Regions from separate parts of the Homo sapiens genome. Here region 2 is linked to region 1. The links come from fine-mapping of genetic effects on gene expression. A gene starts in region 1. The other region holds a variant in brackets. All regions are shown on one strand. Distances are from middle to middle. Region 1 holds the start of IDH3G (isocitrate dehydrogenase (NAD(+)) 3 non-catalytic subunit gamma). Region 2 overlaps PLXNB3 (plexin B3).

Evidence for each region. PIP is the estimated chance that this variant, and not a neighbour inherited with it, causes the effect. A credible set is the group of variants that fine-mapping cannot tell apart.
Region 2: its variant is the best candidate, but not a certain one, in a credible set for the expression of IDH3G in lung (TOPMed, PIP 0.53).

What each region holds. Positions count from the first base shown.
Region 1 is chrX:153,791,736-153,797,093 of GRCh38, reverse strand. It overlaps IDH3G (isocitrate dehydrogenase (NAD(+)) 3 non-catalytic subunit gamma), which reads left to right and starts at 2,719. Exons shown (of 13, transcript NM_004135.4): 1 at 2,719-2,848. The coding sequence starts at 2,768. SSR4 (signal sequence receptor subunit 4) reads right to left here and starts at 2,426. Exons shown (of 6, transcript NM_006280.3): 1 at 2,340-2,426; 2 at 542-660. The coding sequence starts at 2,406. RefSeq lists enhancers at 2,470-2,729, 2,629-3,356 and a silencer at 3,020-3,169.
Region 2 is chrX:153,769,309-153,774,666 of GRCh38, reverse strand. PLXNB3 (plexin B3) reads right to left here. Exons shown (of 36, transcript NM_005393.3): 7 at 4,728-4,860; 8 at 4,419-4,575; 9 at 4,221-4,329; 10 at 4,025-4,139; 11 at 3,784-3,909; 12 at 3,586-3,702; 13 at 3,264-3,357; 14 at 3,012-3,181; 15 at 2,652-2,803; 16 at 2,380-2,485; 17 at 1,651-1,781; 18 at 1,261-1,437; 19 at 954-1,149; 20 at 569-808; 2 more. Among named protein-coding and RNA genes, the nearest start is that of PLXNB3-AS1, 5.5 kb to the right of the region's middle. The variant C/G (reference allele first, on the strand shown) is at 2,123.

The sequences.
Region 1 (5,358 bases):
GGCCATACCCAAAAAAGGCCCCATTTCCTTCTTTGGACTTATGGGAACTTAGCTGGGCATGGTGGCGAGCACCTGTCATCCCAGCTACTTAGGAGACTGAGAGGAGAATCGCTTGAACCCGGGAGGTGGAGGCTGCAGTGAGCCAAGATCGTGCCAATGCACTCCAGCTGAGGCAACAGAGTGAGACCCTATCTCAAAAAAACAAACAAAAAACAAAAACAAAAACAAAACACCCACACAGACAAACTGGCCAATGGCAACCGGGGTGGGCTGACTCCTGGCCCTTTCTCCCGGTCCAGATACTCATTCAGGAAACAGCGGGTGGTGAGCCCAGGGTTACCTCGTGTAGGCACAGCACACAAAGCAGGTGAGGAAGGTGACCTGTCAACACTGGCTAGGATCTGGCATCACCGTGCCCTGATCTCTCCGGCACCCCAAGAGTTGGAATCTTGATTCTCCCTCTATCGACACAGGTCCCCCATCAACTAGCAGTGAGGAGCACCCCCCACCCGCCCTCCTGTCTGAAACCCCACTGTCTCACCTGGACCCTGTTCTTGCATGTCAGGGAGATCTCCACAATGAAGACGGTCTCAGTGGAAATGACAGCGTCAGAAGTGGTGTAGTAGGAAGGGGTGATCTGGGGCTCCAGGCAGGCCTCGGCTGCGGGGAAGAGGGAGAGATGCCTGGGTAAGGCCAGCTCGAGTATCCCGGTCTGAGGGCAGGATGGCCCGGCCCTGCCTCATAGCACGGATCAGCTGGGGACCCATGCGCTCTTCCTGCCCCTTCCAGGTGGGATATGCGAGACAGATCCAAGTGCTCGGTCACAAATGCAATGGCAACGTAGGCGGGATGGCTGTGAAGGAAGGCTGGGGAGGGGCAAGGCCGGCTTTCTGGAGGTGTGCAGGAAGAGCGAACTGGGGACAGGTGGGGGCTGGATTCACTGGACAATACATGCCAACACTTGGACCTATGACACGGAGGCCCGGGGGCCACGCCAGCCTCAATTCAGAGCCACAAACGGCCTGGACGAGTTACTGAAGGCATCCTCAGCAGAGACATCGGGGGTGGGGGCTGCAGGCAGGCAATGCACTGGGGCTTTCAAGATGAGAGAAAGGGTCTCTGCCCCCGGCCAGTTGACAGAAGGTGAAGACTGGCCCCAGCGTTTCCTGAAGAAGTAAACGGGAGAGACTCTGGTTCCAGAAGCACAACTTGTTAGCTGTGAGAGAAAGGACCTTGCCTTAGCCTTCTCCATAACCAGAGGCCCAAAGGAAAGGAAGGCTGCCGCCTACATCAGAGGGTGTGAAACAAAGGCTCCCCAAAGTGGGAATGTTCTCAGCCACCCGCTGTCCAAATGTGGTGCCCTGGCAGAACGATGGCTTCAGCAGAGGACGTCAGAGAAGGCTCTGGGTCTGGACCACAGGAGGCAGATCCCTAGGAACAGCGTGGAGGCAGTTCTCAGGGGCTAGATCCCGCCAGCCCTTCTGTGTCCTGCCTAAGTTGGGCCTGCTTCCTGTGGCGCAGGGGAGCCCCCGAAGGGTTTTATGGCCAGGCTTGTCCTCTGGATACGTCCCTGACTATAGTTCAGGGAATTCCTGAGGGGCAGATGAGGAGTGTGCGGAAAGGGAGGCCAGTTAGGCTGCCAAAACGTTGCAGGCAGCAAGGCTACTGGCCTGAAGGACGGCAGAAAAGGGAATGTGGAGAAAGCCGCCCCTGTCCAGTCCTGGCCCCCGGGCCCGGGGCTGGCTGCTGCAGCCACCTCCTAAACACACTCTGGAGTTCAGACCTCAGCCCCTCACGAATGCAAATCGACGGGACCCCTGGTCGGCTCTGCCGAAAACTCTGGTAAGGGTAAGGCAGGGCCCTCCGGAAAAGCCAGTCTTCGGCCTGGCACTCAAGGCCCTGCGCACCTTTGGCTCCCCATCTAACTCGCCCCGCTCTTGCTCCCTCTCCTCACTGAGGTCCCTTCCTAGCTTATGTGGCTCCTCCAGCCCCGTTTTTGGCCGCGATCGCTCAGCGCTACAGAGCTTCGCTCCGGTCCGACCCCGCAGGGAGCGGGAGCCGGGACATGTGTCACGTTCCGTGCTGCAGCTTGGGGGCCGGGCGCACCATGGAGGCTCGGGGACTCCTCTTCGTATGGGCAGACAAGGAAAAGCCTGGCTGCCGGTAAACGTGCGCGAGGTGCTTTGGTCCCCCCGTCCCAAGGCCGCCTGCCTCTCGGGGGAAGGCCCGGCCCGCAGCGACGGACCCTGAAAGGCCGGACCCCCGCATCCCTCCTGCCCCCAACACCACCTGCCGTGGGTCAGAGGCTCGCAAGAAAGAAGCCCCGGCTGGGCCGCTACCTGAGCAGCGGGAGAGGCTGGACAGCAGGAGCAGCGCCAGGGCGCCGAGAGATGCCATCGCCGCCATCGCCTCTTCTCTGCCTAGAGGAAAAGAAAACGAGCTCCCATGAACACGAGGGGCAAACGAGGAAGAGCGACGCGTAAGTGGCAGCGGCAGCCAATCGCGCACCGAACGGCTGGGCCGGCATTGTGACGTCTCTGGCAGCACTGACGTGGCCCCTCCCTGAGCCAGGGGCCCAGCTGGTCGCGGTCCCCCCCTCAACATGGCGGCAGCGGTGCTCTAGGCGCCGGAAGGGGGCGTGAATCGGTGCGACCGCGCGCGTGCGCAGTACCGGGTCCGCGCCTGTCCCCGAAACTTCGCACCCCGTCGAACTCTCGCGAGAGCGGTATCTGCGTGTCGGGACGTGCGGAGGCTCTCACTTTCCGTCATGGCGCTGAAGGTAGCGACCGTCGCCGGCAGCGCCGCGAAGGCGGTGCTCGGGCCAGCCCTTCTCTGCCGTCCCTGGGAGGTGAGCAGGGAAAGAGCCACGGGACCGCGGCAGCGGTCGCAGGGGAGCGGTGGGGTAGCCGCACCCGAAGCAGTCTGGAGTCCGATTGGCTAGGGGCCCCACCAGGGGCGGGGAAAGGGCTTCGCGCCGGGGTTGATTGGCCGCCTCCGCTGTCACTGAGGGGATTGGCCGAAGTTGGCCCTGGACCGGCTCCCCCAGGGGGTCTGCATCGGGTGGCGGGGGGCCCTCCGGACGGGCCGGGAGAGTGGGCCACGGCGGCTGTCACCTCCTTAGTGTCCTTGAAGGAGCCCTTCTGAGGCAGTCACTCACGTATCCCGGCCCGCCTTTCTCAAACCGCTTCGGGAATCCGGTTCCGGGACTCAAATTTCTCCACGGTTTCCTCTCTCGTGGACCGCTTTGCCACCTATCCCGGTGGCAAAGAACCGGACTTTGCCAGTCATCCCCCATAGTCCCCCAGTCTTAGAGCCCCAGATGCCTTCCCCTCGAGGCGCCTGGAATGGGAAGGAGCTAGGGTTTCTGAGGCTGCGGGGGTTTTGCTTCTGCTCTTCTCCGTGTGCGGTCTTGCGTATTCAGGTCCGAGTCTTCTTTCCTTACACTTATTTAAGAAGAGGTTAATTTAGGTCCTAGGTGGGCTGGAAACCATCTGAAGCAGCTGCCAGCCAGCACCTGGCCCTGATGGGTAAGAGGTTTGACCTCTAGGCCATGCTCCCACACTGAGCCACTGCGTGGCCTTAGGCCATTTCCTCCTCTCTCTGGGTTCTAGTTTCCCCTTTGGAACCCAGAGGGGAGGAGACTTCATGTTCTCAAAGGATCCTGTCAACTCTGACCTTCCAGAACTCCGTGACTTTGCGGCCACTCCCCAGGGACATCTCTACTTGCCATGTTTTCTCCTTCTGACCTCTGGGGGAGACTGCTTGTGCCTAATGAAATTCTCTTGACGATGCTGACTTCTCCCACCTTGCTGCTGAAAGGACGGCAGTATATAGTGGCTTTCCAGAGGCTCTGATGGCTCCAGCAACTGGGCTCCTGTAGGCTCTTGGTGAAGACATGTGTGCCTCCTCCCTGACCTCCCCTGTGTGTGTGCCTGTGTGTGCGTTGGGGTGGGAGTAGGGGACAGTGAACGGTGGGTAGCTGGGCAGTGCCTTGCCCTGAGACTGACCGTCCTGGGTGTGAGAACCCTTACAGAGGAACCCCAGGTCTTGAATCCCACTGATTTGGACGCCATAGGAAAACATGCAGCCACCATTGACACATGGTCCAACAGAAATATGCCAAAGACAGAAGCCTCAGCAGGCATAAGATGTGGGGTGTGGATGTTCTTTCTTTCCATGGAACCATGAAAGGGTGATGGGAGAGCGGGAGGCGTGTACATATTGCATCCTGCCTCACACTTGGCTCCTTTGATTGGTGGCTTCACAGGGAAGTCAGGGCACAAGGCAGAGCCTTTGCGACCTCCTGAAGGAAGGTGCCTGCATCTGTACAGTAAGGTCAGGGAAGTCCATCTGGAGCGCTCTCTGGGTCTTTTGCCAAAGCCCAAAGGAACACCTGGCACAGGGACCGGGTGGCAGAGAGGTTCAGCTCAGCCCTGGTGGTGATGTTGCCATCTGTGAGGGAGGTCCATGCTCTCAGGAGATTGGCTTGCTGCCACAGCTGAAGCCCAGGAGGAACTACTGCTGGGAGCTGCAGGGGTCCACCCGTGACCTCCCAGGGACACCAGCCTTGAACTCTGACCTGAGGGGCCAGTGGGGTGAAGGGGCAGGCGTGCTGTGTGGCACTAGCTACTGTGAGCAGCTCACACACCTCCTGTCCCCTAATCTTTCCAACAGTCACGGAAAGTAGGTACCTCCGTTCTGTGAATTTCAGATGAGGCCATGAAGCCATCTCAAGAAGAGTGGATGGTGGATTTGGACCGAGGCCTCCCTAGTCTCCAGATCTTTTTTCATTTTCTGATGTGCTTGTTCACTCAGGAAATGTTCCTTATGTGCCAGCTCTGGGCCAGGTACTGTGCTGGGTCCTAGGGTGACAGTATTGGACCACACTGACTTGGCCCCTCCTCTCGGGCTCAGGGGTTGAGGAGGGAGCAATGCAGTGATAACCTAGGGAAGGGGGTAAGTAGGGCCTTAGGGTCCCAGCTCAGTAGCCTTAGGGCATCAGGGAAAGCTCCCTGGAGGAAGGTCCATCGAAGCCGCTTTCTGCGTGCTTACAAGAGCCCCCAAATAAGATGATTTCAGATGTTGATAAGCGCTAGAGAGAAGACAGAAAAGTCCCGACCCGTTGATAAGCGCTAGAGAGAAGACAGAAAAGTCCCGACCGTGCCTGTGCTTGCAGATCCAGGTGCCACACAGATCAGCTGAGCTATCCTCGGGGCTCTGGTCCTTGTGGGCACCCTCTCCTAGCCCCTGGCTTGGACTGATGAGTGCCGGCCAGGGACACACAGACAGGGAGAGGTCAGACTCCGCCCGAGCCTTTCTGGACTTCTAGCTGGAAGGCATGGCTCTTTGGCCAATGGC
Region 2 (5,358 bases), 22 kb after region 1:
CAGCATCAGCCAGGGCCGGGGCCAGGCCAGCCGCCTGCCAGGGCGCCCTTGCCAATGGCGAGGAGGGAAGTGTGCTGGGGGTGGGCGGGTCTCACCTGTACATGAGGGTGAGGAGGAGCACGGCGGCAATCAGCACTGCAGCACCCATGCCCACGCCTGCCTGGGCCTCCACGGGAAAGGCAGACAGCGGGGGTTCAGCCTCGTACTGCACAGGGCCCAGGGCCAGCTGCACATTGCCCATCTGCACCTGGGGGGCGGGCAGGGTTCCTGAGTGCATGCTGGCGGCACCCGGTCCACCTGCCCACCCAGGGCACGGACTCACCACGAACTGTGGCAGGCCGGAGCCATTGGCAGGCTGCGGGGCGTGCGCAGGCGGCTCGCAGTACAGGTGGGTGCGCGTGAGCGTCTTCACCAGGCACTCGCCGCGGCCGATGTGCACGCGCACCTCCTCCTTGCTGATGCCCAGGTTGAGGCCCTCGCCCTGGGACACACATGGGAGCCTAAGCCGCTGGCCCCCACAGAGGCGGCCTGAGCACCGTGGCGGGGCAGGGTTGAAGGTGGCCCTCACCTCCACATCCAGGACATGGCCTGGCTTGAGGCGGTAGGGGCGGGCAGGCCCCTCGCGGCTGAGGGGTGCCAGGCGGGGGTTGGGCTGGTACAGGAAGCCCTGGCCCCCACTGGCACTGGCGAAGTCCACTTGCACGTTGTCTAGGGTGAAGAAGACCCGCTGCGGGTGGGCTCTGTCTGGTACAGCAGGGCTCCGGCACAGGAGGAGGCTGGACGAGTTGACGGAGCAGACGGTGGAGCACTGTGGGGCATTCAGGGCCGACCACAGGTGGAGTGAGCTGGGCTCTGCTGTGCGCTGCTAGGGGCATGGCGGCCTACCCTCCTCCTCCCCACTGGGCATGGGCATGGTCGGGGACAGCCTTGTCGCCTGCTGGTGAGGGGCTCACCTGCAGCAGCCCCCCACCGAGCTGGATACAAGCCTGGGGGTCCGCAGCAGGGGCTCCACAGCTCCTCCTTGGCTGTGGGTCCTGGGGCTGGGCCCTGGAAGCCTGCACCTCTGCGTCAGCCTCCAGCCACACAGACAGTAGGGGCCGCTGCACCACGTCTAGGCCGGTGCCCCTGACACGGATCAGTCGCCCACCCCTGTACCAGGATGGCAGTCGGGTGTGGGCGGGCGGTGGGCAACATAGCCCAGCCCGCATCCCACCTTCCCTCCTGCGTGGTGCACAGGCTGGCCTGCGGGCTGACCCTCACCCCCGGAAGCTGGCACTGGGCTCCGCCGCTACAAGCTGGGGGTTGGCGGTGTAGCGGAAGGGGCTGGCGAGCAGTGTGCGCTGGGCATGGCCAAAGACCACAAGGACCGCTGCTTCTCCTGGGGCAGCCTGGGGCCTGGTACGGCACACGATGGCCTCCGGACACACTGGCTCCAGGCTGCAGGATGGGTAGTGGGGTCTCTCATCTCGGCTCTACCACCCCTCTACCCCAGCCCTGGCCCAACCCCCGTAGGAGAAGCCCTGCTTTGCCTGCCTTGACAAGGGCAGGGACCACTGGGGGTGGCCACAGCAACCACTTCTCTAAATGTACCACCCCCACTGAGGCCTATGGGAGTGCCCACCACCCGACGGCAGCCAGGCCGGGACTCACATGGGACAGGGTTGGCCACCCACGAAGGCACTGGTGTTGCCACCTGTCTGGAGGTGCTGACCTCGGATGGTGAGCTGGGTGCCCCCTGCCTGGGGGCCCCAGCGAGGACTCAGGCTCAGCAGGACAGGGTCCTGGCGAACAGCGCAGGCTGGGTAGGCACGGCAGCCCAGCCTGGCCCTTTCACCCCCCTGGGCCATGCCCAAGGCCCTCCGGTTCTGAAGCGCAGGTCATCTCTGGACTTCACCTCCTGGGGCCAAAGTGGACCACGCCCTCCTTCCCGAGGCCACTGCACACTGGCCAGCTTCCTCCCACCCACCCCTGCCGCATGGGGAGTAGAAGTGGGGCTCTTTCATCCTCACTGCCACTCTGTCCCCCTTGGGACAGCCTCCTCCCCACCACAGCTTACAGCCCCCAGACCTGGAGCTCTAAACTCTCAAATCCAGTTGCCTCTTTGGGCAGAACCCACCCCTGC[C/G]CTCACTGCTCCTGTCCCAGGCTTCCCACCCAGGAAACGGTGCCACCAAGTGCCCAGGGCAACAGATCCTGAGAGCTTCGTGCCTCAGACTGGCCTGGCTGCCCACCTCCACTCACATGCCATGGCTTCCCTCCTAGACATGCAGCGGTGCTTCCTGCTCCCCGCAGACCCAGCTTGACATCCTTACTAGGCGCCTGTCCTTCCTGGCCCTCCCTCCTACCCTCCCCTGCGTAGGGCACACCTGGGAGGCCACTGACCTGGTAGGTGAAGTGCTGGCTTGAGATGCCTGGTGGCTGGCTCTTAATGGCCACCCGGACGGGCCCAGTGGTGCCATTGGGGGCAGGAGATGTCACACACACAATCCTGGAAAGCCGAGGCCTGGGAGCTGCTCAGGGCTCAGGGACGGAGGGGACAGCCCACCCCTCCCCTGACCCGAGTGCCCCAGGTTTCTTGGCCACAGGCCTTCCTTATCTCTGGGTGGCCATCTCTGAGGGCCTCCCCACCCATCTTCACCCTCCAAGTGCCTCACCGGGCCGACGTGCGGTAGAGAGAGGGCTCAGGGTTGCAGGGCCGGCTGGCCACGCTCACGGCGTACTGCACATCGGCGAAGGCCCGGCCCAGGTTGGAGCCCAGGATGGTGAGGGCCAAGCCTCCCTCAGGGGGACCGGTCAGGGGCTCGACCTGCAGCAGGCAAATGATGGCAGATGGGGTCCCCCGCACCCACGCTCCACTCTGCAGTGCTGGGTGCCCGGCCAGCCAACCAGCCCAGCCAGGCCGAGCTGCTGGGGTTTGGGGGCCTGGGGCAGGGCTGGTCTGATCACGGAGGACAGGACAGTGCGGGGCAGGAGAAGTGGGCCACTGGGCTGTGGGGGCCCGGCAGGAGACTCACTGCATCAATGCTGGGCGCAGGACACAGCAGCTCCACAGCCCCCGGCGGGCACAAGGGCCCATAGCGACAGGCAGGCTGGCCGTCAGCACACCACAGGCAGCCCAGGCTCCTGTTGGCCGCTTGGCAGTGGCTGCAGTCCGGGTGGCCCATGGCGCAGTCGTACAGGATCACTAGGGAGGGTCAGGCAGTGTGCTGAGCGCCTCCTGTCTGCCACCCACCCTGCCCCGCCTGCCTGGCTGCCCTCAGGCTCACCATAAAGAGCATGGGTGTTGTCCAGCCTCTGGGCTTCACCCTGGGTGACGTAGATGGGCACTGGGAGCTCCCGCTGGGACATGGAGGGATAAAACTGTGGGCAGAGTGTGGGGTCAGGCTGGGTGCCCACTCAGGGCACCTCTGACTCTTGTCTCCTCTGGGCCACCCCCCAGAATGAATGTGATTGTTCCCTGCCTCTCCCCCAAGACTGGGGCCCACAGACAGAGGTTATGGGCCCCAAGCAGGCTCTCCACAAAGATGGCAGACCCCTGAGGGTCTACGGAAGCTTGGGGGCAAGAGGGTTTGGAAGGCAGCCACTCACCTGGTGGGCCTGGCAGTGGATGAGGCCTGAATCCCCTGCTGTCTCCTCCAGGGTGGCCGGCAGTCCCCGAAGTTCTCCAGGCAGCTCCAGCCAGCAGTGGAAGGAGGCAGGCAGGCCCTGGGGAAGGACGCTGTCAGGAGTGTGGACACGCTGTTGGCAGACCTCACTGCCCTGTCCCCTTCCCTCCTGATGGCTCACTCGGAAATGTTGAAGGTTCCGCACGCGTAGGGCCAAATGGCTCTCCCAGCCCACAGGCACCAGGTGGGGACCTGCCAGGCCTTCGACCTGTGGGCAAGCCCCTGGGCCACGCACCTGGATGTCCACCTGGGAAAACAAGAGCCCTCAGCCCTTCAGAACTCAAAGGGCCTACTGCTGGGCGGGTCTGGGAAGGGTGGAGAAGGGACAGCCCTGTCTCTGCCCGAAGTTCGGGCCCACCCACCTCCTGGGCGCTGTAGATGGTCCTCTCGCCCTCTGGGCAGTGCTCTCCGTACACGCAGTGGCTACTCTGCGGGCACCAGTGACACCGCCAGATGCTGCCCACGCAAGCGCGACACCTAGAGGGGCAGGGTGGCTGCTCAACTGAGTGCCCTCTGGGGTCGCCACCCCTACCCCAGGAGGCAGGCCCAGGGACTCACGGGGCAGCCGCCTCCAAGGCCTGGACGGCACTGCAGTCATAAAAGGAGAAGTTGGTGGCAGCCACAGTCACGTCCTCGAACATCAGGGCCAGGGGCACAGTGACGTGGTCTGGGAGGGGACAGTGGGGGCAGGACAGGTCAGGTGGCTCATTACCCCTCCAGCCTCCATCCCAGCCCCCTACCCCATGGGCCACTCACCTGTGCCTGGAGGGTTAAGTGGCACCTGGTCTTGGGGAGGGGTGACACAGGCCACGTGGGGCCCTTCCACATGAGCCAAGCTGTCATAGTCCCCGAACGCACAATGGAAGTATTCATCTGCATCCAGGATGGGCAGCCGGGGGACAGACAAAGTGACCTGGGATGCAGCGGGGAGAAACCGGGAGATGTAGCCAGAGAGAGGGGGCAGCAGAGGCCATGGGAGAGGAAGGAGGACGGGAGGCAGGCGGGGTTCATGCTCCAGGCAGTGGTCATGCTGCCCAGAGGGCCCAGTGGTGGTGGGCGGCTTACCTGGCCCTGCTCCTGGCGGGGGTGGTGGCCCGGCAGCAGGCTCTGGATGTGCAGGCAGTGGCTGTCCTCCTCATAACTCCACAGCCACTGGTTCAGCTGGCCTGCCCGCCCGCACTGGCCCTTCCGGGTACACCTGCCAGGCAGGGGTCCATCAGGTCACCGTGGGGGTCCTAGACTCCAAGGATGACCGGCAACAGGGGCCTGGGGAGGCCGGCCCAGCTGGAGTGCAGTGGGGTGCAATGAGCAGGAGGCGTGAAGGGGACTGTGTCCAGAGAGAAAGGGGCCAAGCAGGCAGGGCCTCATGGCCAAGGCGTGGGCTCCAGCCCTGAGAGGCAGGTGCGGCTGGGCTGAGGGACGCACAGTGACTCAGGGCTGCCTTAAAGGATTCCAGGGGCTGCCGTGTGGAGCACCGGCTGGAGGACAGCTGTGTGGGGTTCTGGACCCTGGCTGGGGCTGCTGGGATGAGGAGTCCACAGGCCGGGTGGTGTCGGAAAAGGGGGGTGCCAACCAGATTGACGGCTCAGTGAGATGGGGCAGGATGGGTGACCTCCGTGGTGGCCCTGAGTCTCTCCAACAGGCAGGGTTGGCCTCCCGGCACGCCTAGGGCTACTTCCAGGGGCAGCCTCGTGGC